Linked DNA regions of Homo sapiens: region 2 is linked to region 1. Evidence: fine-mapped expression QTL. A gene starts in region 1. The other region holds a variant in brackets. All regions are shown on one strand. Distances are between the middles of the regions.

Evidence for each region. PIP is the estimated chance that this variant, and not a neighbour inherited with it, causes the effect.
Region 2: its variant is the best candidate, but not a certain one, in a credible set for the expression of YIPF3 in whole blood (INTERVAL, PIP 0.75).

Annotation. Positions count from the first base shown.
Region 1 is chr6:43,504,871-43,520,165 of GRCh38, forward strand. It overlaps YIPF3 (Yip1 domain family member 3), which reads right to left and starts at 12,056. Exons shown (of 9, transcript NM_015388.4): 1 at 11,857-12,056; 2 at 11,019-11,225; 3 at 10,725-10,831; 4 at 8,718-8,763; 5 at 8,489-8,581; 6 at 8,199-8,330; 7 at 7,891-8,004; 8 at 7,570-7,693; 9 at 6,962-7,445. The coding sequence starts at 11,937. The coding sequence ends at 7,297. POLR1C (RNA polymerase I and III subunit C) reads left to right here and starts at 12,219. Exons shown (of 9, transcript NM_203290.4): 1 at 12,219-12,308; 2 at 12,436-12,507; 3 at 14,463-14,570; 4 at 14,836-14,968; 5 at 15,196-15,295. The coding sequence starts at 12,240. It overlaps TJAP1 (tight junction associated protein 1), which reads left to right. Exons shown (of 11, transcript NM_001350562.2): 11 at 1-1,684. The coding sequence ends at 985. It overlaps LRRC73 (leucine rich repeat containing 73), which reads right to left and starts at 5,476. Exons shown (of 6, transcript NM_001012974.4): 1 at 4,644-5,476; 2 at 3,890-4,050; 3 at 3,428-3,550; 4 at 2,956-3,056; 5 at 2,586-2,808; 6 at 2,098-2,438. The coding sequence starts at 4,915. The coding sequence ends at 2,368. RefSeq lists silencers at 5,054-5,323, 5,344-5,633 and an enhancer at 11,796-12,345.
Region 2 is chr6:43,529,651-43,545,612 of GRCh38, forward strand. XPO5 (exportin 5) reads right to left here. Exons shown (of 32, transcript NM_020750.3): 21 at 4,257-4,357; 22 at 1,829-1,925; 23 at 1,038-1,174. LOC124901522 (U7 small nuclear RNA) reads right to left here and starts at 12,586; the gene lies at 12,525-12,586. It also overlaps a transcript of POLR1C not described here, the pseudogene RPS2P29 and LOC124900224. RefSeq lists silencers at 3,652-3,852, 12,655-12,704. The variant C/A (reference allele first, on the strand shown) is at 9,720.

The sequences.
Region 1 (15,295 bases):
AGTCATTGCCCGAGTGTTAGAGAAGCCGGAGTCTCTACTGCTCAATTCAGCCCAGTCAGGCAGCGCCGGGCGCCCCTTGGCTGAGGATGTCTTTGTGCATGTGGACATGAGTGAGGGTGTCCCAGGTGATCCAGCCAGTCCCCCGGCCCCTGGCAGCCCCACCCCACAACCCAATGGGGAGTGCCACTCTCTGGGTACTGCCAGGGGCTCCCCGGAGGAAGAGCTGCCCCTGCCAGCCTTTGAGAAGCTGAACCCCTACCCAACCCCGTCTCCACCACACCCACTGTATCCTGGCCGCAGGGTAATAGAGTTCTCTGAGGATAAGGTTCGGATCCCCCGCAACAGCCCCCTGCCCAACTGCACTTACGCTACCCGCCAGGCCATTTCCCTGAGCCTGGTAGAGGAGGGGAGTGAGCGGGCCCGCCCCAGCCCAGTGCCCAGCACCCCTGCCTCAGCCCAGGCCTCACCCCACCACCAGCCCAGCCCAGCACCCCTAACACTCAGTGCCCCAGCTAGCTCTGCCAGCTCTGAAGAGGACCTGCTGGTCAGCTGGCAGCGGGCATTTGTGGACCGTACTCCACCACCTGCTGCTGTGGCCCAGCGCACAGCCTTTGGACGCGATGCCCTCCCTGAGCTGCAGCGCCATTTTGCCCATAGCCCCGCTGACAGAGATGAGGTGGTCCAGGCACCTTCTGCCCGACCCGAAGAGAGTGAGCTTTTGCTACCCACAGAACCTGACTCTGGCTTTCCCAGGGAGGAAGAAGAGCTGAACCTGCCTATCAGTCCTGAGGAAGAGCGCCAGAGCCTGCTGCCCATTAACAGGGGCACAGAGGAGGGGCCAGGCACTTCCCACACCGAGGGCAGGGCCTGGCCACTCCCCAGCTCCAGTCGCCCCCAGCGCAGCCCCAAGAGGATGGGGGTTCACCACCTGCACCGCAAGGACAGCCTGACCCAGGCCCAGGAGCAGGGCAACCTGCTCAACTAGGGCCCCTGCTGGCCTTCCTGCCATTGCTGCACCAGGACTGCAAGGAGTCCCCACACCTTGGCAGCTCAGGGTCCCCAGTCCAAGCCCTTGACCTCTCCTCTATCCAGACCCGCACAGCTGTTTCCTGTGTGGATGGGGTCAGGTTGTGGGCCATGCCAGGCCTGTCAGCTGCGTTGACTGACTGCAGCAGCTTGCCTCATGGTTTTCCCTTTTTCTTAGAATATTTATTCTTCAGAGGTAACATGCAGTTGGGTCTCAAGACCTTTCCTCCAATCAGCCCAACCCAGCCCAGACTGGGCTTTTCTGGGGAGCTGAGGAGTTTATCAGTATTCATCTTCCATCCTTTCATAGTCACAAGTTTTGTTATTTTGTTTTTTTTTGGGGGTGATGGTGTAATTGTTAACCTCATTTCCGTTTCCTACCTGTTTGCTTCCCCCCCCAGTCCTCCGCATGAGCTGTTGCCCTCCAGGGGCCTGGCACAGCTGGCCTTGGGGACGAGGGAGAGGACTGATTCAGGGCCCCCTCAGCTGTCTCCTCCCTCCCTCTGGAAAGGAGGGTGGGGCTCAGGGGCCTCAAGCTGGGCTCTGTGTGAGGCCTGGCCCCCACTCCCAACCTTGGCTCTAGACTGTTACTCTTAAGCTTTGAGAAATTTTCACATTGATGACTATTTTAAAATCAAATAAAACTATTTTACTGGTATGGCCTAACTTGTCTTAATGACCTCCCCTCTCCCACTTTTCTCCCCATTCATAAGTATTCCCAGTCCTAGTCTCATCCTAGTCGGCTAGTGACTCCCCCTCGCCCCACTCTGCCTAGGGTTTCCCTAGGCACAGAGCATCAGGGAGCGGGAAAGGGGGCACCTTAAGTAACCTTAGCAGGGTTCCTGAGTCTTCCCTCGGAGGCAGGGACCATATCTTTATGGGGCTAGTGTAAGGTGTTGCCTCAGAGGCCTGGGTTCTAGGCCTGGCCAGGCCTATTTTGAGATCCTGGACCAGGTCACGCAGCTTAGAGCTTGGGCTGTGCGATGCTACTGCCCCCTAGTGGTGCTTACTGGTAGTTCCAATTCCTCCCCTACTGCCGGCCCCAAGTGACTACAGCCACACGACAGGTTGTGGAGTTCATAAAATCTTTTCCGAGCCAGCGGGTTGCAGCCAGAGCTGCCAAGTTCAAAGGCATTGCCGTGGGTTCAAGTGCCCCCCAAGGCTGTTGCTCAGTCACAGCTTCCAGAGCTTCCTTCCCACCACACTGCCAGGAGCTGCCAGAGCCCCCATGCAGCCCCTGACCCCAGTTCCCTCCCAAGTCCCAGGGCCTGACCCTGATATCTGGGGCAAGGTGCTCGGGACATAGATAAGTGAAATGGTGTGCAGAGGCCCAGTGGAGAGTCACATCTCGGTCTCAGCCAACAGACTGTCCCCTAGTCCTGACGTCATTAGCACCATCTGAGAGCTGGGATCTGTGGAAGGGCAGAGAAGTGTTCAGACCACCATTCCTTCCTCCAATGGGGACCACAGATAGGTGAGAGCCTAGGTTCTGCACACCCACTCTCCCTTGTCCCGAGCCTCTTCCAGACCTGGCTCTGATCAACCCTCTGGGTTCTTACCGCTGGGGCACATCCAGGAGCTGCTGCCTCTCTGGTGGGCAGCAGGCTCCCGCCCTCTCTCCCATTCCTGGGTGTCGCCAGCCCCTCCTGCCACTTCCTCCTCCTCCTCTCCCTCAGAGAGGAGGTCACAGATCTGTTGCTGCAGCTCTGGGCTAATGCTGTTCTCAGCCAACACCAGGCTCCGCAAAGCTGTGGGGTAATTTTCTACCATGTCCAGCAGGGTCTGAAGTGGGGAAGAATATGGAAAAGGATGAACACAGTTAAGGCAGGTCCTCAGACCTCAACCTGCCATGCCTTAGGTATGTCATCAGACACATAAACTAACCTCCACCCCATCCCCTGGCCGTGCCCAAACATGACGACTTCCCACCTGAGCTGACTGGTTGGTGAGCCCTGTGCCCTCCAAGTCTAGGACCTCTAGGGTACGACTAGAGGCCACAGCTACAGCCAGCATTCCTGCCACATGGTCACCTGGGGAGACAACACACGTGCACACATTCATACACATGCCTGCTAATCCTTACAGATAGCTTCCCCATTGCCTTAACAACTTTAGATACTAATCCCTGGCCAAGGAAACATGGACAATTGGTGGTGGTCAGGAAGGGATCATTGTGATTGGTGAGTGAAGGCACGAAGCAAGTTAGGCCCACGGGTGGTGACTGATGTTTTGATCTATTTGTTGGTCACCTGGTCCGCCACAAAGCTATCTCCTTGACCCCTGGGGGCTCCCGTTTCTCTTCCCTCTCCCAGTGTACGGGTTACCATGTCAACTGATGGTCCCAGGCTCTTGGATAGGGCATGAGGCAGTGACAGCCCAAGGGGGTATTCTTGAGCCTCACCCAGGGGGTTGTAATCCAGATTGAGGACGCGGACCTGGGAGCTGTGGGCCACGGCAATGGCAAGGCGGCTCCAGCCCTTAGGGGTGATGCCAGGGTTGGCACTCAGCGTTAGCTCCTTCAAGCCTGGGCAGCATCATAGCAAGAAACCAGAATAGGGAGGGTTAAGCCCTCCTCCAGCCCTTCCCCACAATCCCTGTGTCTCTGGGGTGTCCCTAGTGGCTGGGCACCACCTTACCCCCACCATAGAGGTCAAGAGCCATTAAGGAGGCCCATGCTTCCTCTGCCTGCCCCAGCCTGGATTCCTGAGTCTCCATGCTGCCCCCCGTCCTGCCCCTTCCTGAGAGGAGTAGAAAGATGTTCTCGCCCACATCATCAGAGCTCTGGGGCCACACCCCCTTCCCTCTGCATTTCGATTTTCATCACTGCCACACTAGCCCAAGCCCTCAACAGGGTCCTGCTCACCAGATTTGGCCCCATCTGGGGGCAGGAGGCCACAGATGAGGTTGATGGCTTCATCACCCAGCATGCAGTCCCCCAGGTCCAGAGCCACGAGGGCAGGGTGGAGGGCCAGGGCTGGGTTCAGCAAGGCCAGCCCCGCATCTGTCAGGGGGCTCCCATGCAGGCTGGAGGAGAGTGAGAGAGCAGGGTTACTGCAGTCCTCCGCACTATCTACATGGGAAAGGGGCACTTTCACTTCTGTCAGCCCTAGGTATGGGGAGGGCAGTCACAGCGCTTGAGAGGCCTGGAAAAGGAGAAGGAAAGTTCTAGATTCTCAGGGAATACAGATAGAGGGAGAATTCGGTTTGTTTTCTGGGGCAGGGATCCAGGACATTGCACAGGGAGGGGCAGAGAAGGGGTGGGTGGGTGGTGGACCGGAACTCTGCAGTGGGCAGGGCTCTCGTCCCCACGGGGATATTCCCCCTTGGGAACCAAGGAGCTGCCCCAGTGAAGTAAATGCAGATGATTAGGTGGGGAGGTACGGCCCCCACCTCATGTCAGGAACTGGTGGGTATCCCAACACGGCTAGGGTCGCGCGTGCAAAGTCCAAGCATGTGCTTGGAGGGTGCTGTGAAGGCATGGGCCGAGGCACGGTGTATGTGCATAAGGCATGTGAAGGTAGGATGGTACTGGAAGGAGTGTGGAGGAACAGGAGGTGCCAGGGGAGTGTATGGAAGGGTGCAGTGCCCGGGACCCCCTTGCGAGGGGGCGCACTCACAAGAGGGACTGGATGGAGCGGTTGGTCCGCAGAGCCTCAGCCAGCTGCTTGATGCGGCTGGGGCTGGACACGACGCCCAGGTTAAGGTTGAGCTGCGCCAGGGACGTGGCCCCGGCCAGGGCCCGGCAGATGCGGCCAAAGTCGCGGTCGCAGAGGCGGCAGCCGCGCAGTGAGAGCAGGCGCACGGCGTTGTCGCGAAGGCCGCGGCAGATGTCCCGCACCTCGGCGCCGGACAGCGGCTCCCCCGAAATCTGGATGGAGCTGGGCAGCATCGTGCCCACGGCTGGGCCTCCGGGTACGGGGCCGGAACGGAGGTTGGTGGGGCCGCGGGCGGGGCCGGGGATAGGGCCGGGGTCGGGGCCCCGGCAGGGGTCGCGGGCGGAGTGGGGCCGGGGGTGGAGGCGGCGGCTGTGGCGGAGGCTGCGGCTGCGGCGGAGGCTGCGGCGGGGGCGGAGAAGAGCTACCGGGACTGAGCCGGAGCCGGCCAGAGGTGCGGAGGCGTCCAGGGCGCGGGCCGGGCTGAAGTGGGGCGGCGCTGGGGCGGGGGCGGCCCGCACGGTCCGTGTCTGGGCGTTGGGGCGGGTGCGCGTTCCGGGGGTTGGGCAGGCGCTGCTCGGCGCTTGTCCTTGTCCCTCGCGGTCGCGGCGGCGGCGGCGGCAGCGGCAGCGAGCGGCTCAAGGGCTTCGGCTTACCGGTCTCGGCTAGGAGGCCGTACCCGCTCCCTCCTTCTCTGCCGCCCGGCTCCCCCCGACCACCCCGCGGGCCTGGCCGCACGGCTGGCAGAGAGAGCCTGAGGCGGGCGGCTGGCGGCAGCTCCGGCTCCAGCTCCAGAGAGCGAGCGGGCGGCGAGTTCCCATGGCAACGGCCGCGTCACCGGCGCTCGCCCCGCCCCCTGCCCGGCCAAGGCCACGCCGGCCCGCGAGGTTCGCGTACACTGGGTGGTTCGGGGCAAGGAGCTGGGAGCGATAGGCCGCTCTTCCCTTGGGAGTGGGGTCAGCCAACTGGCAGGCGGCAGGCGGCAGGGCTGAGTGGGTAGGGCTGACGGGGAGCGGAATGGAGGCACGCCCCGTGGAGATGGCGTTGGGCACGGTTACTGCTGCTTCTGCCCATTCTTCCATCCTTCCCCGTTCCTAAGGTCCATACCCCCGCCGGAATCCAGGGCACTGTTCCCTCCTATTTGGAAGGCCCCAGGGCCCTTTCATCCGCGCCGCGCCTCGCTCCCGCCCCCGTGACTCGAGGCGCAGCGTGCGTGGTGATCCCGGCCCATGGGGACTTCCCCGCTTGCTCCTCGCCAAGATGGCGGCCTCATCAGGGAGGCCCCAGGGGCCACGGCTGGGCAGAGCCAGCTTGAGCTGCTGGGGAGAAGGGTACCCCATAGGGTCCCTAGGGCAGGGGAGCCTCAGATAGATGCAAGGTCCTGGTGCCACACCTTCTCAGGTACGCAGGGCACTGTTGACATCTGAGGGTGTGTCCGTGCCGCGAGACTGGGGCAGCCAATACAAAGAAGGTGCCAGGGCCAGGGCCCTGGAGCACTGGTGAGGACGTGAAGGCGGCTGAGCCACACTGCACGGTGCAGGCGGTGCTGTCTCAACTTTGTCCTCTGGCCAGGGTGGTGGGGGACTCACTTGTGTAACGCAGGACAAATGAAGGGCACCTCTGTTTGTCCCTTTGTTAGGAGGGATAGATGCTGCTGACCCAGATTTACTAGTGTTAAGATGATTATTTTACATAAAATATAATATTCAATATAGTGAAGGGAGGTCAAAGGCCCTATTCCCACTCTTAGCCACCTGAATTAACTTATTAAGTGGAGCATATTAAAGAGGTGGTGGGGGTGGATGGTGCTATGTTAGGAGTGGTGGTTGGTTTTAAGAGGAAAGACAGAAAAACTAAAAGGAGCTGGCCCCAGTACCACCAAGGCAAAGCCAAATTTGGCTTCAATTAAGAGCTCCACAGGAAAATTATCAACACAATGCCCAGGTGCAGAAGATCCTTGTTTTGACACGGGGTTTAAGTCGGGATGTTTTGTTCAATTGTCACTGCTTCCTTGGCTTCCCAAGAGAGCAGCTGAGCCCAGACTCAAGCTGGCTGCAGTGTTCCATCAGGCTTATGGCTTTTGTGCTTGAGGCCTCCCTGCCGCTTCATGGGTCAGGTGTGATATTCAATCACTGCCTTCTATGTAGTCTGGCCTGTCCCACCTTTATCTTGCCTGGGTGAGGATATGAAGAAGGGAACATATGACATTACCACTGTTGACTGAGTAGGAAAGTATATAGGAAGCGGGATGACAGGGAGGACCACTGGATCAGCCGCTGCAGTTCCAGACTTCAATCAACATTTTAATTACCAAGTCTATATTTAGCAAGACAATGTGGGAGAGATAAAGAGGAAGGAAGGGGTAGGTGGGGAGGGGTTCTCAAAGGAGCTGACCCATTTTCTGCATTGGCTGCAGAGCCTTGCAGTCCTGGCCAGGAGTTCTTGGCCTTGTGCCTTTCAGAAGTGCCGACAGGCATCAAGGAGGTACTTACGCAGCTACAGCTCAGTGGCAGCTGCAAACCCCATCTACGAAACATGTCATCAGGACTGTCCTTTAATAGTCTTCCTCCTCTCTGCAGCTGCGGGAAAGAGGACTGGCCAAGAATTTCAGGTGGGGTCAGTGTGACTGCAGGGTCACCGCAACAGCTTTGGCTGTGGCGTTGAGGACGGTGGTGGGAAGCCGAGCAGCAGGGAGCATGGCAGGGATGTCTCTGGGGACCCTCTGGATGGGCGGGATGTTGGGGCCCTCCAGTGTGTCCAGGATCCCTGGAAGGAAGATGGAAGGTGAGCGAGGATCAGATGGGCCCAGCCCACCAGCCATCATATCTAGCTTCTTGCTCTAGGCAGCTGCTTTCCCATTCTCCCCCACCCAGACCTTCCTGCCACTTACCCTCTACCACTTTGTGGTAGGCAAAATGCAGATAGAGCAGGAAGAGCATGTGTAGGGCAGCCAGGGTGCCACAGAGGAGCAGCCGCTGTGTGGGGCCCACGGTCCGAGACACCAACACTGCTACCTAGGACCATGAGAATACAGCTCAAAGGGCCTGGCTCCAAAGTGAGGAGTGGGGACAAGACACCCCCACCCAGGGCAGAACCATCTTTGGGCTCTTCCCTCCCATTTAGGGCTCTTTGTGAGATGGACAGCTCCAGGCTGTCTTCCCCAACTCCCTGGGAGGACAGCCCACCCCTGGAAGCCTCTTGCCCAGCTTACCATGCGCAGTGTGGACAGTCCACCCACCAACAGCCAGAAGAGGTAGAAGAGGGCGTGGAGGTGGATATTATAGGTGATGAACAGGACAATGCAATGCCCAAAGAGGCCATAGCCCTGGGAAGGAGGATGGTGGAGAGGAAAATCATTCAGGTTGGGCTGCTTTCTGGCCCCTCATGGGGACCCTGGGAAACACATGGTCCATTGGCCTACTCCTCCCATTCCAGGCTTTGGGGCCCCAGGACAGATGCCGACCAAGGCCTGGCTACTCTTTTTAACATCACTCTTGCCCACCACACCTGGCTCCTTACCAGCAGTGCCAACATCTGCAGCATGGTGATCTGGGCGTTGCACAGGTAGGCAAGGAAGTAAATGAAGGATGAGACTCCCAGCCAGTAGCCGAAGCAGGTGCCAATGGCTGTGCCCATCAGGGTGCCCTCCCGCTGTGGGGTGAAGGCTCTATTTAGTCCTAGGAGGCCTCTGATCTCAGCCTCACCTAGGGCCTTCCGCAGGGGCTGTTCCTGTCTCACTCCACCATTGTATCCTCAGGCAGCTTTCAACCTAGTGCAGCCACCCCCCCAAAGTTGTCTGTCCTGCTTACGATAATAGTGTCAGACGTCTTCATCCCATGGAGTAGGATAGCAACCAGAGTGAAGACCAGCATGAGAGGTCCATAGAGTTCACCTGCAATTTTCTGTCAATATACCAATTCATTCAGGCTGGAGGGTACAACAGCTCATCTGTTTATGGCTTCCCAGGATTTGCCTGGTGGTCCCACCCTCTGCCCTGGTGCTTCCCCCGGCTCTCCAGACATGCCACCCTCTATTCACCTGGGGGAAGTTGACCATCTTGATAGGGATCATGGACTCCAGGAGCCTGGGAGAGGAGAGGAGAGATTAAAGCAAAGGCAGCACAAGGCCATGAGGTTCTGGAGGGCAAGGCCTGAATTTTATTCATCTCTAACTCCAGGGAATGGGGCCTGGCCTAGAAGACATGTTGGATGACACGGTAGAACAGGGTAGTAAAGACAGATAGGGAATGAGGAAATCATTTCCTTGCCCCTAAAGTTACTTCCAGGAAGGACAACCCTCTGAAACTTAGCTGACTGAAACAGCAGCTATATGGAGAACTCAGCCCTACTGGGCCTTGAAGGAGGGCCCGACCATGTATCCGTCTGCCCCCTCCCCTTGAAAAGACAGGCAGGCTGGGCGCGGTGGCTCACGCCTGTAATCCCAGCACTTTGGGAGGCCGAGGCAGGCAGATCACAAGGTCAGGAGTTTGAGGCCAGCCTGGCCAATATGGTGAAACCCTGTCTCTACGAAAAATACAAAAAATTAGCTGGGCATGGTGGCGGGCGCCTGTAGTCCCAGCTACTCAGGAGGCTGAGGCAGGAGAATTGCCTGAACCCGGGAAGCGGAGGTTGCAGTGAACCGAGATCGCGCCACTGCACTCCAGCCTGGGTGACAGAGTGCGACTCCATCTCAAAACAAAACAAAACAAAGACATGACAAGACAGGCAGACCTCAGCAGAGAGTACCCAGAATTCAGGGTTATAATGAGGAAGCCCTGGGAAAAGTCTAGCCGGCTAGATGGAAAGTTTAGAATGAAAGGTGTTACTGAGGGAATAGTAAAAACGCCTCCTCTTCCTGCTTATCTGTGCCTCCAGGCACTTTCGAGTATTTTCTTGAAAAATATATGTGAAGTGGTATGAAAATTTAGTCACTTCCCTCTTCTCTCAAGTGGCTAGCTCCTAATCATACCTGGGATTTTAGCTAGGTTTTACTTCCTCTGGGAAACTTGTCCTGTCCCACCCACCAACCTGCTTTGGCTCACATATCCCTCCTGTGTGCCCCATCATAGAATGAGTACTGTACTGTAACTGCACTCAAGAGCAAGGCTCCCATCTATCTTCACCACTGAACCAGATACGATTAGTTTAGCGTCTGGCACAGAGCAAATGCTTAATAAATACCTGCTGAGTGGTCCTGGGTATTTGATTAGCATTGATTAAAGGATGAACAAAAAAACCAAGCCAGGATTAAATCTAGTTCTTGAAAAGTCACTCAAAAACTATGCCCTGATATTTTGATTCTGAGACTGTTCTGGTGCTGGGAATAAAAAGATAAACAAGACAGAGCCTGCTTTTGAGATGCTGTTGGTCTCTGGAAGGAAGATTCCAGGAATAAGAAAGGATAGCAGTGGTGAAGTGCTGTCTATTAGAGGCAAGCGCAGAGTTCTTTTTTTTTTTTTTTTGAGATGGAGTCTCACTTTGTTGCTCAGGCTGAAGTGCAGTGGCACGATCTCGGCTCACTGCAAGCTCCGCCTCCGCCTCCCAGGTTCATGCCATTCTCCTGCCTCAGCCTCCCGAGTAGCTGGGACTACGGGCACCCGCCTGTCTAATTTTTTTTGCATTTTTAGTAGAGACAGGGTTTCACCGTGTTAGCCAGGATGGTCTCGATCTCCTGACCTTGTGATCCGCCCGCCTCGGCCTCCCAAAGTGCTGGGATTCCAGGCGTGAGCCACCATGCCCGGCTGGCAAGCACAGAGTTCTATAGGAACACCAGGAGAGAACAAACTGGGGATGGGATTGAGGAATGTGGAACAGAGGAAGTGACATCTGAGGTAGGTTTTGAGGGAAGATGAGTAGTCAGTTAGATGGAAAAGAAGAGGAAGATGGTGTGCTATTATTACTTGTTTCAGTGACAGGTGCAGTGATGAGAGGTGATGGGGTCATGAAGACGGGGAGCCCATCAGAGCCCAGGGCTTGAAATCTGACTGTAGTGTGCATGAAGGTCTAGGTGTTAGGAGGGAAGCTTCTTCAAGAGAAGGCTCCTCACCTGCTTCGCACCTGAGCAGGCTCCACATCAAAGTAGGGTCTGAGGATGTCGATGTTGGCGTACAAGCTGAAGGCCCTGGAGGCTTGTCTTTTCCCAGCCTGCCACATCTGAAGTAAGGAAGATGGGCATAGGTATTGTGGTACTGTTGGTTCTAGATCCTGTTGCCTATTTTCCGTTTGATTTCTACATGGTTCTAACTGGACAACCTGGGGCGAACATCACCAACACCAATTCCAGAACACGGGACATACCTAGGTCTACTTTTCTACCTGCAGAGGATTCAATCTTGCTTACCTGATCTGCCACCTGCCGGCTCAGCTGTCCCTTAAAGCCCTTCATGCCCAGGAACTCTCCATCCTCCTCTTCAGCAGCAGCTGCATCAGCTGCATCAGCGTCTACTTCTTCCTCGCGCAGGCGCTGATGCAGCTCACCCATATCCTCGAAGCTAGAGCCTGAGGTATCATCCATGTTCTCCATGTCAATCACAGCTGAGCCTCCGCCCTGTGAAGACAATGGCTCCTAGAGTGCAGGACTTTTCTGTTCCATCCATTAAGTCCTCTGCTCATCCCAGGGTTTAGGGCTTTGTTCTTCCACTGCTGAGGATACGGCTTGGAATCACTACAGATCATGCCACTCCATTCCCCCTCATATGCTCTCAGAACGCCTGGTTTCTAGCTTTGGCTATCTTTTCTAGCCTGGGAAACCTACTAGTCTTCCATTCATGTCTTTCTCCTATGTTACCTATCAAAGACTAAAAGGCTGAAAAAGTGCCCATTTCCTTCTTTCCTAAGCCCCAAACAAAACTATACACATAGTATGTTTTCAGCGAATGCCAGTGAATCCCACCCAACCCCACTCCATGCCTTACCCCGACCAACCTCCTAACTTGTTCCAAGAATACCTTCTTCCTAATGCCTCGGGCGGGCCCTGAAACCCGAGATCCTCAGGCTGGAGTAGTAGTCTGGCCCTTTCAGGTCAATGTTAATCCCACTGACTTTAGTGTGCACGAAGACCCAAAGAAGAGAGTTTTGTAAATGGAGCGGACTTCCAGGCCCAGAGGGGGAATCCCCAAGACACTTCTGGACATCGCCGGCCCTCCGGCTGCTGGCAGCTGGTGCCTTGGGGCCATTACCTGGATGTTTTCTTCGAACCCTCCCCATTCCGGGCCAGCTCCATTTCGGGCGCCGCCCGCCGGCGCCGCTGTAGTTGCCATGTCCCTTGAGGGCTCCCGTCGCTGAAACCCGCGCTAGCCCCGCGCGCGGAGTGGGCAAGATGTGGGCCTCCGGAAGGTAGACGTCCAGGGTCGAGGAGAGGTGGGATCGGCCGGAACACAAAAAGGAGAAGCCCGGATGTTTGGACAAAAGCAACTTCCGGAAGCTGGGGACGTGGACGGGGGCGGGGAAAAATCTCGCGATATTTAAGATTCCAGGAGGCGGTGCGTTGCCACGGAGACGGAGCAGGGCTACTAGGACGCACGCGCGAGATAGAACCTCTAGTCTCGTGGAGAGATTGAAGATGGCGGCTTCTCAGGCGGTGGAGGAAATGCGGAGCCGCGTGGTTCTGGGGGAGTTTGGGGTTCGCAATGTAAGCCTTGTGGCCTTGAGCTCGGGCGGGAGGAATGAGAGCGGAACAGGGATGGGTCTTGGGATTGGCGTGGGGATAGCTGTGGGCTCACTGTCCCTTCGTGGACAAATTCGTCCCTTTGCTCTAGGTCCATACTACTGACTTTCCCGGTAACTATTCCGGTTATGATGATGCCTGGGACCAGGACCGCTTCGAGAAGGTAAGTGGGGCCGGAGTTGTCTGGGGAGGGTTATGAAGGCCAGACCTTGTGGTCTGAGCAGCCTGTGTCTGTCTCAGAAGCTGCTCTTGGGGGTCGCTCCGTTTGTAAGTTTGTTGAGCAATGTGCTAGACGCTCCGTTTACAGGCCAAATTAGACACGGTTTCTACCCAGTTCTGCAAAGATGTTCAGTCTTGTTGAGGAATGGTGTGTATAAACAGTGAATCTAGTGTAATATGGTGAAGGTGGTTGATAGCGATGAAGACGGCAGGGTTGGGGTGGGGAGCATTACGCTGAGACCAGGAAGAGGGGCGGAGAGGTACTTAACATTTCAAGAGGAGGGTACATCTCAATTGAGCCTTGAATGGTAAGTAAAAAAGAACAGGAGTTAAATTATGAAGGGTTTGTTTCAAGTCAGTGAAGTTCAGGATATACAGGTTTTGTGTGTATTTAGTCTTTTGTATTGTTTCACTTAGCTTAAAATAAGGGTTAAAATTGCATTTAAATAGATTACTGAATGTTACCGTTTAGGCAACTGACCTTTGCGTGCAGCTTATAAACATGATCTGTAAATCAGTGCTTGGGAAAATTTTACTTTTTTAACCTGTTGATACAAGGAATAAAGTATGAACAATGAAAAAGGTTAATGCTTGAAAAAAAATTATGGCTTGTGTGAAGTGTGCTCCGGGCATGTCCAAGTAGTTCTGGCATGAGTGGTAGGCAAGGTTGAAGTGTGTCTTGGGCACTGTTGATGATAGGGAGATTGAATAGTTCTTAAGCAGACATGATGAGATTTGCAACCTTGGTGGCTGGGAGGGAATGAGTTTGAGGAGGATCATATGGAGCAGGCAGATCTGTTGTAAGGGAAGCTGAGGTTGAAGACATGAACTAAGACTGATGGTAGAAATAGAGCAAAGGTAGAATAGAAGGTAAATTTATGATTGCTTTGGTAAAGGCTGTGGGGGTAGCATAAAATGACTTTTTGGCTTGGGAACTGCTTTGATGCATTGTGGTATCATTTACTGAGAGGAGAAATGGGTCTGGGGAACGGGAATGATGATGCATTGTTTTCTGCATGTGGAGAAATCTAGCAGGCTAGAAGACTGCATGCTTGAAATGAGATCAGAAGTGAGATAACATTTTGGGAGTTGTCAGAACAGATAGTTGCTAAAACTGTTAGTACAGTTAAGGTGACCTGGGAGAGAGACAAGAACCTGGCAAATTTAGAGATGGGTGGAAGTCGATCATCAGAGAAGGAAGAAGAGTGGAGCTCAGAGCTCAGAAACCAGGGGAATAGTTCAAAAAAGGAGGAGATTTTTTTCTTTGCTTTTCATGAGGCACTCTTATGTCCCAGGCTGGAGTGCAGTGGCGCGATCTTGGCTCACTGCAACCTCCGCCTCCCGGGTTCAAGCAGTTCTGCCTCAGCCTCCCGAGTAGCTGGGACTACAGTCATGCGCCACTATGCCCAGCTAATTTTTTGTATTTTTGGTAGAGACGGGGTTTCACCATGCTGGCCAGGCTGGTCTCAAACTCCTGACCTTGTGATCTGCCCGTCTCAGCCTCCCAGAGTGCTGGGATTACAGGTGTGAGTGACTGTGCCGGGCCAGGAGGGGGTTTTTTAATCAATGCCAAGCATAACAGAAGTCTAGTAAGAGGACTGAGTAGTGTCAACAAAACTAAGCACTATGGTAGTTTCTGTTCTTCAGTAGAATAGCTTCTGTGGATGGTTTGGTTGGAAGCCATATTGCATAGGGTTTTAATGAATGGACGACAAAAATGGAGACTTTTCATGAAACTTAAAACACTGGGCGAGATAGAATATTTAATAAGAGACATTTGGGCAAAGGGAGGTTTTTGGATGAGAGGATAATACTTGAGGGAATTATCTAAGGGGGAGGTATGAAGAGATATTACACAGAGAGCAGATTTCACTTAAATGTTTTTTCCTGTCCCTCTAGAATTTCCGTGTGGATGTAGTACACATGGATGAAAACTCACTGGAGTTTGACATGGTGGGAATTGACGCAGCCATTGCCAATGCTTTTCGACGAATTCTGCTAGCTGAGGTATTGGCAGGCATGGTGACAAGGCTGGAGTTGCTTTGGGAACTGCACTGACACCTCACTTGGAGAATTAAGTGTCTCAAGCTGTCCTTCCCTCCTTAATTTTCCTGGAATTTTGCTGAGCATTTTACCTTCTCATTCTTTGTAAATTTCTCATTAAACATTCTAGGAAGAGAGATAGCTCCCTACCTCTGGAGGTTGGGGTTACGGGGATAGGTAGGGGGTCTGTTGGGTTTTTGCAGATAAGTGGTTATTTTTCCTTGGGCAGGTGCCAACTATGGCTGTGGAGAAGGTCCTGGTGTACAATAATACATCCATTGTTCAGGATGAGATTCTTGCTCACCGTCTGGGGCTCATTCCCATTCATGCTGATCCCCGTCTTTTTGAGTATCGGAACCAAGGTGAGAAAATGAAATTTTGGGAGAAGTGGACTATCTGGGTTCAAATCCTGGTTGACTGTGATGTTGGGTAAGTTACTTATCTTTGTACATCAGTGTCTTTCATCTGTGAGAACACTTGCCTTGTCTCCCAAGTTTGCCATAATTAAATGGGAAACACGTAAAGCATTCAGCATAGTGCTGGCACTCAGACGTTTACTAGTTCTTAGGAGCTCCCTCCATTTGTGCAGGAGATGAAGAAGGCACAGAGATAGATACTCTACAGTTTCGTCTCCAGGTCAGATGCACTCGGAACCCCCATGCTGCTAAAGATTCCTCTGACCCCAACGA
Region 2 (15,962 bases), 25 kb after region 1:
GTGGCTCAGGCCTGTAATTCTAGCACTTTGGAGGCTGAGGCAGGAGAATTACTTGAGCCAGGAGTTTGAGACCACCCTGGGGAACATAATACAGACCCATCTCTACAAATAATAATAAAAACTAGCTGGGTGTGGTGGTGCGCATCTGTGGTCCAGTCCAGGCTCTTCAGGAAGCTGAGGTGGGAGGATCACTTGAGCCTGCACTGAGCTTTGATGGCACCACTGCATTCCTGCCTGGGTAACACTGAGACCCTGTCTCAAAAAAAAAAAAAAAAAAGTGCTTCTAAAAATACAGAAAAGGGATAAAAGTTTTATCTTTCACAGCTGGGCATGGTGGCTCACACCTGTAACCCCAGCACTTTGGGAGGCTGAGGCAGGCGGATTACTTGAGGTCAGGAGTTTGAGACCAGCCTGGCCAACATGGCGAAAACCTGTCTCTACTAAAAATACAAAAAAATTAGCTGGGCGTAGTAGCATGCGCCTGTAATCCCAGCTACTTGGGAGGCTGAGGCACATGAATCACTTGAACCCAGGAGGTGGAAGTTGCAGTAAGACAAGATCATGCCACTGCACTCCAGCCTGGGCAATAGAGCAAAACTCTGTCTCAAAAAATAGGAATAAAAATCAGCTGGGCGTGATGGTGCACACCTGTAATCACAGCTAGTTAGGAGGCTGAGGCACAAGAATAGCTTGAACCTGAGAGGCAGAAGCTGTGAGCCGAGATCATACCACTGCACTCCAGCCTGTGCAACAGAGTGAGCAAGACTGTCTCAAAAAAAAAAAAAAGTTTTATCTGTAATAATTCCGAGAAGGGGGAAGGTAAAAATTTACCCCTAAGGAAAAGTTTATGGCCATCTGGACTGCCTTCATGTTTTCCCTGCAATCTGCCAGTGTTTTTAATGACATGATACACTTAGATACATAATCTCATCTCTTCCTTCCAGTTCTGCCTCTTCCCTCTGGTTGCTGTGACCTGTTTTGTTTCTCTCTCTAATTTTCTGACCTTTTGGGTTATGTAGAGACTTTTGAAAGGATATGAAGCATGGGTCTGAGTCGGTAGTCAGGAATATTGTTCAAGTTGACAAAGGCTGAGCTGAGAAGCTGGGTAGCAAGGTCCTCCACAGTATAGAAGTCTTGCTGCATGGAAGGGCCTGCCTTCCCTAGGATATGAAAACTGTAAAGGGGAAAAAAAGAGCATTGAAAATGACAAATCCAACATCTGTTACTGCCAGCCCTGTCCCATGAATTTCATTTCTAGCCTACAATAAGGTTTTTCAGCCAGAAGAGCAGTTGTATTTACTTAAGAGAACTTATAGATACAGCATCTTTTTAAAGACAGATGTTGGTGGCCGAGATCAGCAGTAGCTTTCATTACTATTTAATGTGGACTTACAATGGACGATCTCATTAGCTTGGCTGATTAGTGTAGTGGTTAGTGAGGCCAAAGCCCATGAGGGCCAGTTACCTCCCCAACCCACAACCAGTATCCAGCCACCCGACTCCTATGAGAAGTATGCCGCAAGCAGTGTAGGGTCTAAGCAATCCCCACCACTTTTAGCTTCGACTTGGGTTTCATCATTTTATACACTAGAAACACAGACAAGTTGGGCATGAAGCAGGCTGGGATTGTGAGGCTCATATGACAATTACAAAAAAAGCAAATGCAGGAAAGCAGGCTTTCATTTCTATTTAACACTAGAATGATAAGTTTCCTATCAAACTCTTGCCTCGCCTTACCTGTACACTAGATGAAAAGTCCAACCCATGGACATTCCTATACAATACATATCGAGGAAGAAAATATGGAGAGGCAGCATTGGTTCCTTACCAGTTTTCATAGAGGGTAGAGAAGAAACGCTGCATTCTTTCCAAGACGGTTTTGAAGACAGGAGAGTCATTGAGTTCCAAGAGAGGTTGAGGTAATCCTACAGGGAAATACGGGTCAAGAACATGATGCTCCACTGTCAGGAGTCTCAATTGGCCAACACTCTACAGCAGGAAGCTGTTGTTCAGGGGTGAAGATGTGTGCATGTCTGGTGCTGTACTGCAAAGCAGTTGGCTACGTGATTTGCTGCACTCTTTTGGTAGGAGAAGGTGAAAGCTACTTAAGGACCCAGGACTTTAGACCCGGGTACTCTTTTATCTGCTTTTTTTTTTCCCCCAGATGGAACCTGTACCAAAAAAAGTGACAACTCAAAAGTATTTTTCCATAAAGCTCTGGGGATGCTCCCACAATTAAGTTATGAAACCCCTTTTTTAAGCAAAATCTTACACAAAACACTAAGATGTGTAGCAGCTAAAAATGAAACCCACTTACCTTAGTATTAAAAACTGCCTTAAAATATCTATATTTTTAAGTGTAATCAGAGGTTTTACATTTCGAGTCCTATAGTCAGAAGCTATCTGTGGGAACTGTTTGTCCATTCTAGTATTTCTGGTTGGCCACTTATTTCTATAGCAGGAGTTCCTGACTTAACTTGAATAATGGCATGGGGGTGTGTGGTAAGCAACACCTACTTTTTATATTAATAGCTATACATTTCTTGGAATTTCTACTTTTACTGGTGTCTGCAACATAACCCTTAAATGGAATGGTGTCAAAGGAAAAGATTCAGGACTATCTAGGCTGAAACAGACAGACATGAGTTCTGGAAAGGCAAATTAACATCCTTCCTTTGGCTAACTTCACAGCTGAGGAATGCCATTGGATTGCTTGACCACAGCCGGGCTCAGACACAGGTTATAGCTGATGACAAAGACAAACTATGGGGGCTGTGATGGTGAGCCAGCCTGAAGCTTCTGAGATGGGAACAAGGTTTAGACAACTGATGCCTCTAGCTCTAACTTCATCCCACATTCCCAGACTAGCTCCCTGTGCTCCAGCCACATGATTCAACCATCTCTATGTTCTGGACATACCAAGGCCTTTTTCTCTTGCCTCAGATCTTATACCTGCCATTCTGTTTGTCCAGAATGCCCAGCATTTCCTCATGCCCCTAACCTAGCTAGTTCGTACTCATCCTTCAAGTCCCCATTGGGAGTCAGCCTTCTGACTTCCCTCTGAGACTGGGTTAGGTCTCCCGATAAACACTCAGAGCCCTGCCACTTTCCTTCACAGCAAATACCACAATTATGACTGCACAGTTATTTTCATGCTTATTTTCAATGGGAAAATGAATTAAAGCAGTATCCTAACAAGGTCACAACTGGAAGGCCAGGCGTGGTGGCTCATGCCTATAATCCTGGCACTTTGGGAGGCCAAGGCAGGCAGAGCACTTGAGGTCATGAGTTCGAGACCAGCCTAGCCAACATGGTGAAACCCTGTCTCTACTAAAAATACAAAAAATTAGCCGGGTGTGATGGTGCATGCCTGTAGTCCCAGCAGGCTGTGGGAGAATCACTTGAACCTGGAAGGCAGAGGTTGCAGTGAGCTGAGATTGCACCACTGTACACCAGCCTGGGTGACAGAGTGAGACTCTCTCAAGAAAACAAAACAAAACAAAAAAGGTAACAATTGGGAAATGGCTTAAAATCTATTCCTTTAAAAACTTTGATACCTATCTACACACACACACACACACACACACACACACACACACACACACACACACACGAGGAGGCAGGAAAGTATACAAATATCCTTCAGGTTAAAGGCCATGATTTATTTATAATTGAATGGCTGTAACACCCACCACAACCTACTGGCTAAATTGAAGAAGGGGTTAACGGGGAAAAAAAATAAATTGCCTTCGATTTTCTCTGTATGCTAAGATAATGAAGTAAATACACTTGTTCATATAGAGCTTATAGGAACTCCACATTCTGCATTTCTGAACAAATAGATGGTCAAGGCAGTGCAAGACAAGATGGAAGAAGCACAAGATAGGCTGAAGCTGCTCAAGGAACCCATAAGAACGCCTGTAATCACTAGGATTCTAGTGCTTTAAAGGCCATGGTGGGAGGACTGCTTGATGATAAGAGTTCAAGACCAGCCTGGGCAACATAGCAAGACTCTGTCTCAACAAAAAAATTTTAAAGTTCGTCTGGCGTTGTGATCTGCCTGTGGTCCAACTACTCGGGAGGCTGAGGCAGGAAGACTGCTTGAGTCCAAGAGTTTGAGCCTACAGTGAGCTATGGTTGCACCAGTGCACTCTAGCCTGGGTGACAGAGACTATGACTCTTAAAAAACAACAAAAAAAGGGGACATCCATTAGGGATAAGATAAACCTTAGGAGAAAAAAGGTTACATTTCTTACCTAATATAGCAGATTTTTCCGCGTCAAGCATATCCAGAGCCTTGGTGAAAGGCTCTGCCATTTTGGCTAGCATTTCTGGTGCATATAATGTATTGTGGGTTCTGAAAGAAACAAGAATGCTATTGAGCTTTTCCATCTGATGCAGAAGGAAAGAGTGGGTTTTGCTTGTAATCCAGTGATACTACAGTTTCACACAGATCTGCCCATCAACTCCTGGCAGGGGAAAGAAAAGAAGGTATAAATATCTGAATGCTCGCTGGAGGAGGGAACAGACTTGTATAGATATAATTATCTTAGTATACAATACCTAAGATAAATTAACATGAGAACTAAACCCCAAGACACAGGACAGTATCAGAGTCCAAAGCTAGAAAGCAAAATTCTTTTAAATCTGAGGTGGTCCCAGGAGTTTTTTGACCACCAGTGATACGGAATGAAATGTGTGCAACACTGTGGATTTACAGGTAGGAACACAGAGGAGGTGGTAATTTGCCCCATTTTTCAATGTTTTGTCTTAATTCCAAGAGCATGGACCTTGCAACAGCTGTTTGGACCTGATAGAGGAACACAATTCCCAACACATGCTGTCCCCCACCAAAATGACCTACCTGAGCAATTATAGGCTTTGAGTAAGGAGCAAGGACTGTGAACTTGATATACCCGCTGTCCACAGCACTCTTACCTACTCACAGAAATGACCCCACTGAACAAACTGATGGCTACACGTTTAAGATGCAAACTGAAAACATCTTTTAGACCATGTTTAAACCTCCATAGTTTGTTCTTTTTGTTCTTAAGAAGTCATTCTAGGCTGGGCTCGGTGGCTCACGCCTATAATCCCAGTACTTTGGGAGGCCGAGGCTGGCGAATTACCTGAGGTCAGGAGTTCAAGACCAGCCTGGCCAACATAGGGAAACCCTGTCTCTACTAAAAATATAAAAATTAGATGGGTGTGGTGGTGCATGCGTGTAATCCCAGTTACTTGGGAGGCTAAGGCAGAATTGCTTGAACTTGCGAGGCAGAGGTTGTGGTGAGCCGAGATCATACCACTGCACTCCAGCCTGGGCAACAGAGTGAGACTCCATCTCAAAAAAACCCCCCAAAGGCCAGGCGCAGTGGCTCATGCCTGTAATCCCAGCACTTTGGGAGGCTGAGGTGGGTGGATCACGAGGTCATGAGATCGAGACTATCCTGGCTAACACAGTGAAACCCTGTCTCTACTAAAAATACAAAAAATTAGCCGGACGTGGTGGTGGGTGCCTGTGGTCCCAGCTACTCGGGAGGCTGAGCTTGCAGTGAGCCAAGACTGCGCCACTGCACTCCAGCCTGGGCAACAGAGCGAGACTCTGTCTCAAAAAACAACAACAACAACAAAACCCCAAAAAACAGAAGTGTTTCTATGGCTGGGCCCAGTGGCTCACGCTTGTAATCCCAGCACTTTGGGAGGCCGAGGTGGGTGGATCATCTGAGGTCAGGAGTTCAAGACCAGCCTGGCCAACATGGTAAAACCCAGTCTCTACTAAAAATATAAAAATTAGCCAGGTGTGGTGGTGGGTGCCGGGCATGGTAGCTACAGGTTTAAGATGCAAACTGAAAACATCTTTCAGACCATGTTTAAGCCTCCATAGTTTGTTCTGTTTGTTCTTGCTTAAGAAGTCATTCTAGAGGCCGGGCGCGGTGGATCACGAGGTCAGGAGATCGAGACCATCCTGGGTAACATGGTGAAACCCCATCTCTACTAAAAATACAAAAGCTAAATTAGCCAGACATGGTGGCGGGCGCCTGTAGTCCCAGCTACTCGGAAGGCTGAGGTGGGAGAATGGCGTGAACCCGGGAGGCGGAGCTTGCAATGAGCTGAAATCGCGCCACTGCACTCCAGCCTGTGTGACAGAGCGAGACTCCATCTCAAAAAAAAAAAAAAAAAAGTCATTCTAGGCCGGGCGCAGTGGCTCACGCCTGTAATCCCAGCACTTAGGGAGGCCAAGGCCGGAGAATCACCTGAGGCCAGGAGATCAAGACCAGCCTGGCCAACATGGTGAAACCCTGTCTCTACTAAAAATATAAAAATTAGACGAGTATGGCGGTGCATGCCTGTAATCCCAGCTTCTCCGGAGGCTGAGGCAGGAGAATCACTTGAATCCAGGTGAGCCAAGATCGTGCCACTGCACTCCAGCCTGGGTGACAGAGCGAGACTCCCTCTCAAAAAAAAAAGTCATTCGCTACCCTGGCCAGGCACAGTGACTCATGCCTGTAATCCCAGCACTTTGGGAGGCTAAGGCAGACGGATCACCTGAGGTCAGGAGTTTGAGACCAGCCTGGCCAACATGGTGAAACCCTGTCTCTACTAAAAATATAAAAATTAGCCGGGTGTGGTGGTGCATGCCTATAATCCCAGCTACTTGAGAGGTCAAGGCATAAGAATCGCTTGAACCCAGGAGGCGGAAATTGCAGTGAGCCGAGATTGTGCCACTGCACTCCAGCCTGCGCAACACAGTGAGACTCCAACTCGACAAAAAAAAAAAGTCATTCACTAACCTCATGCTGTAAATATGGTCTAGAAGTTTTACTTTGGCCAGATGCGGTGGCTTATGCCTGTAATCCCAGCACTTTAGGAAGCCGAGGTGGGTGGATCACGAGGTCAGGAGTTCAAGACCAGTCTCTGGCCAACATGGTGAAACCCTGTCTCTACTAAGAATACAGAAATTAGCCAGGCATGGTGGCACACGCCTGTAAATCCCAGCTACTCAGGAGGCTGAGGTAGGAGAATCGCTTGAACCCGGGAGGCAGAGGTTGCAGTGAGCCAAGGTCGCGCCACTGCACTCCAGCCTGGACGACAGAGTGAGACTCTATCTAAAAAAAAAAAAAAAAAAAAAAAAAAAAAAAAGCAGCTTTACTTTTTGGGTTTTAAAACACCTGAAAATTTTTTCTGTGTGTGGTGGCTGGTAGGAATCTAATTGTTTTTTCTAACACGGTGAAACAGACAATATGGTGTCTGTCCTCGACAACTCAACTCTGCATAGAAAGCCAACTGTCCCAGCATTGAATAATTGATTTTTGTTTTGTTTTTTGTTTTTTAAAGAGACAGGGTCTCACTCTACTGCCCAGGCTGGATTGCAGTGGTGTGTTCATAGCTCACTGCAGCCTCAAACTCCTGGGCTCAAGTGGCCCTTCCACCTCAGGCTCCCGAGTAGCTGGGACTATAAGTGTGCACCACCACACGTGAATAATTAAAACTTTTTTTTTTTTTTTTGTAGAGAAAGTGTCTGTGTTGCCCAGGCTGGTCTCAAACTCCTGGCCCCAAGAGATCCTCCTGCCCTGGCCTCCCAAAGTGCTGAAATTATAGGCATGAGCCACTATTCCCAGCCATCTTTTTCTAACTTTCATTACTTCTGTCATAGATCAACCTGTAATACATACCTGGGAGTCTTTTAAAGGCTAAACCTTTACTATTGTGTTGAACCCATCATCATCTACAAAGGATTATCTGCTAAAAAACTGAACTGGTATGAGGTCAGTTTTCTAGACCAGAGGTCACATTCATACATGTTTTAAGCTTGGCCGGCAATATGGTGTCTGTCCTCGACAACTCAACTCTGCATTGAAGCGCAATAGCAGCCATAAACAGTAGGTAAATGAATGGCCAAGGTATGTTCCAACGGAAGTTTACTTACAAACATGTGGAGACTTACATTTGGTCCTCAGGCTGCAGAGTGCCATATGTCCTCTAGACATATTCACGTGTAACAAAATAACAAAAATAAAGGAAAGTAGACAAGATCAAACAATACTCCAGAGATGCAATCATCAAAATTTCACCAGGGGAAACTCTGGAAATACAAGTCCACATTTTTCAACAAATAAATTGAAAAGAAAAAGAGGGCCAGGCATGGTAGCTCACGGCTGTAATCCCAGCACTTTGGGAGGCTGAGGCAGGTGGATCAGTTGAGCTCAGGAGTTTGAGACCAGCCTGGGTAACATGGCAAAACCCTGTATCTACTAAAAATACAAAAAATTAGCCAGGCGTGGTGGCGCACACCTGTAATCCCAGCTACTCGAGAGGCTGAGGCAGTCGAGAGGCTGAGGCAGGAGAATTGCTTGATCCCGGGAGGCGGAGGGTGCAGTGAGCTGAGATAGCACCAGTGCACTCCAGCATGGGTGACAGAACAAGATGGTCTCAAAAAAAAAAAAAAAAAAAAGGCAAGGAACTTATAAATTTAGAGCCTAAGAGACATCTTTTTTTTTTTTTTTTTTTTTTTTTTTTGAAACAGAGATTTGCTCTGTCGCTCAGGCTGGAGTACAATGGCGTGATCTCAGCTCAATGCAACCTCCGCCTGCTGGGTTCAAGTGATTCTCGTGCCTCAGCCTCCCAAGTAGCTGAGACTACAGGTGCGCACCACCACACCTGGTTACTTTTTTAAATTTTTAGTAGAGATGGGGTTTTGTCATGTTGGCCAGGTTGGTCTCAAACTCTTAGCCTCAAGGATCCGCCTGCCTCGGCCTCCCAAACTGCTGAGATCACAAGCGTGAGGCACCACGCTAAGCCTAATTTAGTGACTAAGAGATATCTTAAATATATATAAACCTTGTGTGGATAAACAGAAAAAAGGAAAACATTCGGTGATATTTGAATACTGATTGTATACTGGATATTGAATTACTGGTAGTATTTTGAGATATAACAATGGAAATGTGGTTATATTAAAAGACTTATTACTAGCTCCATATTGCTTTTGATTTGGGATTTTCGTCTCTATGTTTACAAGTGATTTAGGCCTATAATTTTCCTCTTTGGTACTGTTAATGTCTGGTTTTGGTATCAAAATAAATAAGCCTCATAAAATGAGTTATGGAGCACTACATTTTTCTTTTTTTTTTTCCCACGCTTAATTCACTTTATTTTTCTTGTATAAAAACCCTATGTTGTAGCCACAGCTGGAGCCTGGGTCTGCTGCACAGAGACTCTGGTGTGGGTCTTGACGAGGTGGTCAGTGAATTCCTGATAGGGAGACTTGGTAAATACAGTCTCCTTCCAGAGGTCGGGGGTCAGGTAGCTGTAGGTCTTAGAAATGGCATCAAAGGTGGCCTTGGCGAAGTTGCCCAGGGTGGCAGTGCAGCCCTGGGCTGAGGTGTAGCAGTCATCGATACCAGCCATCATGAGCAGCTTCTTGGGCACAGGTGCGGAGACAATGCCAGTGCCCCTGGGTGCAGGGATGAGGCGCACCAGCACAGAGCCACGGCGGCCTGTCACCTTGCAGGGGACGGTGTGGGGCTTGCCGATCTTGTTCCCCTAGTAGCCTCTGTGCACGGGGACAATGGAGAGCTTGGCCAGGATGATGGCCCCACGGGTGGCGGTGGCCACCTCCTTGGAGCACTTAACACCCAGACCGACGTGGCCACTGTAGTCCCCGATAGCAACAAACGCCTTGAACCTGGTGCGCTGGCCAGCACGGGTCTGCTTCTGCA[C/A]TGGCATAATCTTCAAAACCTCATCCTTGAGAGAGGCCCCCAGGAAAAAGTCAATGATCTCTGATTCCTTAATGGGCAGGGAGAAGAGATAGATCTCCTCCAGGGACTTGATCTTCATGTCCTTGACCAAGCGGCCCAGCTTGGTGACGGGCATCCACTCCTTATCTTTGGCCTTGCCTCCGCGAGCTCCGCGGCCTCAGCCCCGGCCCGGTCCACGGCTGCGACCCCGGCCCCGGATGCCACTGGCGAAACCTCTGCGGAAGCCACCGCGGTTCCCCATCCCAGGGCCACCAGGGCCTCCAGGCCCCCCCACTGCACCGGCGTCATCCGCCATTTGGTGTTTTCTCGGAGAAGAAGCTACATTTTTCTATTCTTGGGAATAGTTTGTCTAAGAGATAAATTATCTGTTCCTTGAAGGTCTGGGAGAACTCCCATGTAAAATCATTTAGGCCTGGAGTTTTTTGGTCTAATTTAACTACTACCAATATAATTAATATGAAGTTATATCTCTTTAGGTTTTCTATCTTGTTGAGTTAGAATAAGTTACATTTTCCCTGGAAATTATCCATTTTTAAATATTTTATTTTTAAAAATAGAAGACGGGGCTGGGCACAGTGGCTCACGCCTATAATCCCAATACTTTGGGAGGCCAAGATGGGCGGATCACCTGAGATCAGGAGTTTGAGAACCAGCCTGGCCAACATGATGAAACCCTGTCTCTACTGAAGATACAAAATTAGCTGGGCATGGTGGCGCACGCCTGTAACCCCAGTACTTTGAGAGGCCAAGGAGGGGGGATCACCTGAGGTCAGGAGTTCAAGACCAGGCTGGCAAACATGGTGAAACCCTGTCTCTACTGAAGATACAAAATTAGCCAGGCCGGGCGGATCACGAGGTCAGGAGATCAAGATCATCCTGGCTAATACGGTGAAACCCTGTCTCTACTAAAATTACAAAAAATTAGCCAGGCGAGGTGGCGGGCACCTGTAGTCCCAGCTACTTGGGAGGCTGAAGCAGGAGAATGCCGTGAACCTGGGAGGCAGAGCTTGCAGTGAGCCGAGATGGCGCCACTGCACTCCAGCCTGGACGACAGAGCAAGACTCCGTCTCAAAATAAATAAATAAATAAACAAAATTAGCCAGGCATGGTGGCACACACCTGTAATCCCAGCTACTCAGGAGGCTGAGACAGGAGAAGCGCTTGAACCTGGGAGGTAGAGGTTGAAGTGAGCCGAGATCATGCCTTTGCATGCCAGCCTGGGCAACAAGAGTGACACTCCGTTTCAAAAAAAATAAATTAAAAAATCGATATGGGGTCTTGCTACGTTGCCCAGGCTGGTCTCCAGCAATGTTCCTGCTGTGGCCTCCCAAAGTGCTGAGATTACAGGCATGAGCCAACATGCCCAGCCCCATTTTTCTTAAGCTTTTGAATTTACTGATGTTATCACTAGTATTTTCAAAGAACCAGCTTTATTTTTATTAAGATTTTAAAAAATTGAGGCATAATTCACATAACATAAAACTAACCACTTTAGGAGTACTATTCAGCCATAAAAAAAAAAAGAGATCTTGTCATTTGCAACAATATGGATAGCACTGGAGGTCATTATGCTAAATGAAATAAGCCAGGCACAGAAAGACACATCACATGTTCTCACTCTTTGTGGAATCTAAAAATTTAAACAATTCGACTCATGGACATACAGAGTGTAAGGATGGTTAGCAGAGGGGCTGGGGAGGGTAGTGGTGGGTTAGGGGTAAGGTAGGGATTGTTAATGGGTACAAAAAACCCACAAAGAATGAATAAGATCTAGTATTTCCTAGCACAATAGGGTGACTATAGTCAATAATAATTTTGATTGTACATTTAAAAAGCATAACTGCAGTTGACTATAACTGGATTGTTTGTAACACAAAGGATAAATGCTTGAGGGGATGGATACCCCATTTTAATTGATGTGATTATTATTATGCATTGCATGCCTGTGTCAAAACATCTTATGTACCCCATAAATATATGTATGTACTGTGTACCCACAAAACTTTAAAAAACTAACAAAAAACATCCCCACCAAAACCTAACCATTTTAAAGTTCACAATTCAGTGGTATTTAATACTTTCAAAGGGTTGCATAAGTAACCTCTACCTGGTTCCAAAACGTTTCCATGGCCCCCAAAATAACTGCCAGGCCCATTAAGCAGTAGCAGTTGATCTACACTTTCTTCTCCTCTCCAACCTGAGGCAATCGCCAATGTACTTTCTGTCTCTAGATATTTCATAAAAATGAAATCATACAACATATGGCCTTTTGTGTCTGGCTTCTTTCACTTAGCATAATGTTTTGAAGGTTGATCCACAGTGTAGTAATTATCAGTACTTCATTTTGTAAGTACTGTAGTAATCCAATACTTCTTTTTTTCTTTTTTGAGATAGAGTCTCATTCTTTCTCCCAGGCTGGAGTGCAGTGGCACGATCTTAGCTCACTGTAACCTCCATCTCCTGGGTTCGAGTGATTCTCTTGCATCAACCTTTTGAGTAGCTGGGGTTACAAGCATGCACACCACCACGCCTGGCTAATTTCTGTATTTTTAGTAGAGATGGGGTTTCACCATGTTGGCCACACTGGTCTTGAACTCTTGACCTCAAGTGATCTGCCTAAGGCCTTAGCCTCCCAAAGTGCTAGGATTACATGCATGAGCCACCGCACCCGGCCGATTTTAGAAATCTAGTGTGTATTTTATACTTACAGTTCATCTCAATTCAGGCTAGTCATTTTTATTTTTTAATTTTTATTTTTTTTCTCTAAGGAGCTTTCCAGAGAAAACTGGAAAGCCTACCAGACCAATTCTGAAAGTACTGTAACACTTGACTAGTAATACTTCAAGTGCTCAATAGTTTCATGTGGCAAGTGGCTTCCATGCTGGACAGCACAGCTTCAACACCTTCTATTATCAGATTATTTGACGCAGGAGGTGCTATGAATACCTTGCTACATTCTTAAAGCAAACTTTTCTCTACTAAAAAAATAGTAATTTATTTATTTTTCAATTTTTTTTTTGAGATGGAGTCTTACCCTGTTGCCCAGGCTGGAGTACGGTAACATGATCTCAGCTCACTGCAACCTCCGCCTCCCAAGTTCAAGCGATTCTCCTACCTCAGCCTCCTGAGTAGCTGGGATTACAGGCACCTGCCACCATGCCCAGCTAATTTTTTTTGTTGGTGGTGGTGGTATTTTGAGTAGAGACGGGGTTTCACCATGTTGGCCAGGCTGGTCTCAAACTCATGACCTCAAGTGATTCACCTGCTTCGGCCTCCCAAAGTGCTTGGATTACAGGCGTGAGCCACTGTGCCCAGCCAAAAAATAGTAATTTAAAACTCCCAACTCCAGCATATAACTGGTGGGAATATAAATTAGTATAACCACTTTAAAAAGCAGGTTGCATCTATAAAAACAGAAAATACACATTTCTTATAAGCTAGGAATTCTACTCCTATGTGTGTATCCAACAGAAATTATATATATATGTTCACAAAACGTATTTGACATAAGAATGTCAACAGCAGCATGATATGTAATATTAAAATATCACCCAAAGGTCCATCAAGGCTGAATAGTTACAGCATATTCACACAATGAAGTATCATACAAGCAAGGAGAACAAAAAAAACACAAGTACATTCATGCAGTAACATGGATGAACCTCAGAAACAAAATATTGAGCGAAAGGAAGGCAGACACCAAAAGGTGCATACTTCTGATTTCATTTTCACAAAGTTCAAAAACCTGGACAAAATGTTAAAAGTCAGAATAGTGGGCTGGGTGAGGTGGCTCACATCTGTTATCCCAGCACTTTGGGAGGATCTCTTGAGCCCATGAGTTCAAGACTAGCCTCAGCAACATAGAGAGAACCTATCTCTACCAAAAAGTTAAAAATTAGCTGGGCATGGCTGCTCATGGCTGTAGTCCTAGCTACTCAGGAGGCTGAGGTGGGAGGACTGCTTGAGCCCATGAGGTCGAGGCTGCAGTGAGCCGTGATCGCAACACTGCACCCCAACCTGGGCGACAGGATAAGATCGTGCCTCAAAAGTAAGTAAGTAAGTAAATAAATAAATAAATACAAATCAGAATAGTAGTTATCTTTGAGGGGCAGGTAATTACTGAAAAGAGGTATTAGGTAAAGTTGCTTCTTGATCTGAGTGCTGATTACATGAATGTGTCCACTTTGTGAAAATTCATCTACACACACTCACAAGTTAAGCCCTTTTCTACATAAATGTTACACTTCAAGATAAAATTTATTTAATTTTTTTTTTCTTTTTTGAGACGGAGTCTTCCCTGTTGCCCAGGGACAGGGAAGACTCTTCCCTGTGATCTTGGCTCACTGCAACCTCCACCTCCCAGGTTCAAGCAATTCTCCTGCCTCAGCCTCCCGAGTAGCTGGGATTACAGGCGCCCGCCACCATGCCTGGCTAATTTTTGTATTTTTAGTAGAGGTGGGGTTTCACCATGTTTATTGGGCTAGTCTCGAACTGTTGACCTTAAGTGATCCATGCGCCTTGGCCTCTCACAGTGCTGGGATTATAGGCATGAGCTACCGCGCCCAGCCAATAAAATTTACTAAAAAAGCAAAACTCTTAATAGCTCCAGCTACACACTATTCAAGCAATCTACTCTATCATTACATGCTAGGCATTTTTCAAAATGCCTTTTGATTGATTTTTGGAATTCTCTAAAAGCACTGAACTCTTAGAAAAGTATCAAAATGATAACCATCTGAAGACTAAGAAAATAGAGTCCTTAAAGTCAAGCTGAGTCTGCTGTTAGCCTCCTAAATGAAAGGATAGACAGAACAGGTCTTGTTTGCAAAATAAATTCAAGACCTACTTATCTACCGACAGCAATTATACACTTTCCATTGTCTTTCTATAGAAAATAGGAGTAGTAAATTTATAGAGGAAAAAACTGGAGAAAGACATAGTGAACACATGAGAATCTTCCTCTACTGATTGATAGGAAGGTGACTAGAAATTGAAAAGAGATTATACTTTTTTAAAAAAAGAAAATTATATAAAAAAAGATAATCATACTGTTGTCTTGTGGCCTCTAGAGTCAACCAGAAATGAACCCTGTTTCCACGTCTGGGTTGGCCACATAGATTCTGGCCACAGGCCTAAAAAGGTCTAGGTGATTAGCTTCTTGCCCTATGATTTCCATCACTTTCACGTTTCTCTAGCTGCAGAAGAACCTTGTGGTTTTAAAAAACATCACTATGGGGCTGGGTGTGGTGGTTCACACTTGTAATGCTAGCACTTTGGGAGACTGAAGCAGGCTCAGCTGTCCGAGACCAGCCTGGGCAACATGGCAAAACCCCATCTCTATTAATAAAAACATCACGATAGAAATAAGCCTCTTCTTGACTAAATGTTTAACCCTCTCAGTACAAGTCCTACTTCTTTTCAGAGATCTCTTTCCTCCTTTAGAAATCAAAAGAAAATATTATTTATTTATTTATTTATTTTGAGATGGAAGTCTCACTCTGTCGCCCAGGCTGGAGTGCAGTGGCGTGATCTTAGCTCACTGCAATCTCCGCCTCCCGGGTTCAAGCGATTCTCCTGCCTCAGCCTCTCGAGTAGCTGGGATTACAGGCATGTGCCACCATGCCCAGCTAATTTTTGTATTTTTAGTAGAGACAGGGTTTCATCATGTTGGCCAGGCTGGTCTGAAACTCCTGACCTCAAGTGATTGACCCACCTTGGCCTCCCAAAGTGCTGGGATTACAGGTGTGAGCCACCACACCCCGCCAAAATATTGTCTATTTCCACAGACATGTCCACAATGACAACTTTATCAGACACTCCAGCCCTCCAATTTGTCAACATTAACTTAAAATCTTTGGTTCTCAGGCTTCAGGTCTTGGGTGTCTATTCCCAGGAGAGTTTCACTGCGACATGAATAATTTGGTTTGCCCCGTTGAGACTGCTTTTACTCCTTGGAGAAGGGGCCAAAAAGTACTGAAACAGAGCTCTAACAATGTAATTTAAACATCCTGTGAGAGGCCAGGTGTGGTGGCTCACTCCTGGAGTCCCAGCACTTTGGGAGGCCGAGGTGGACTGATCACTTGCGGCCAGGAGTTCGAGACCAGCCTGGCTAACATGGCGAAGCCCTGTCTCTACTAAAAATACAAAAATTAGCCAGGAGTGGTGGTGCACACCTGTAGTCCCAGCTACTTGGGTGGCTGAGGC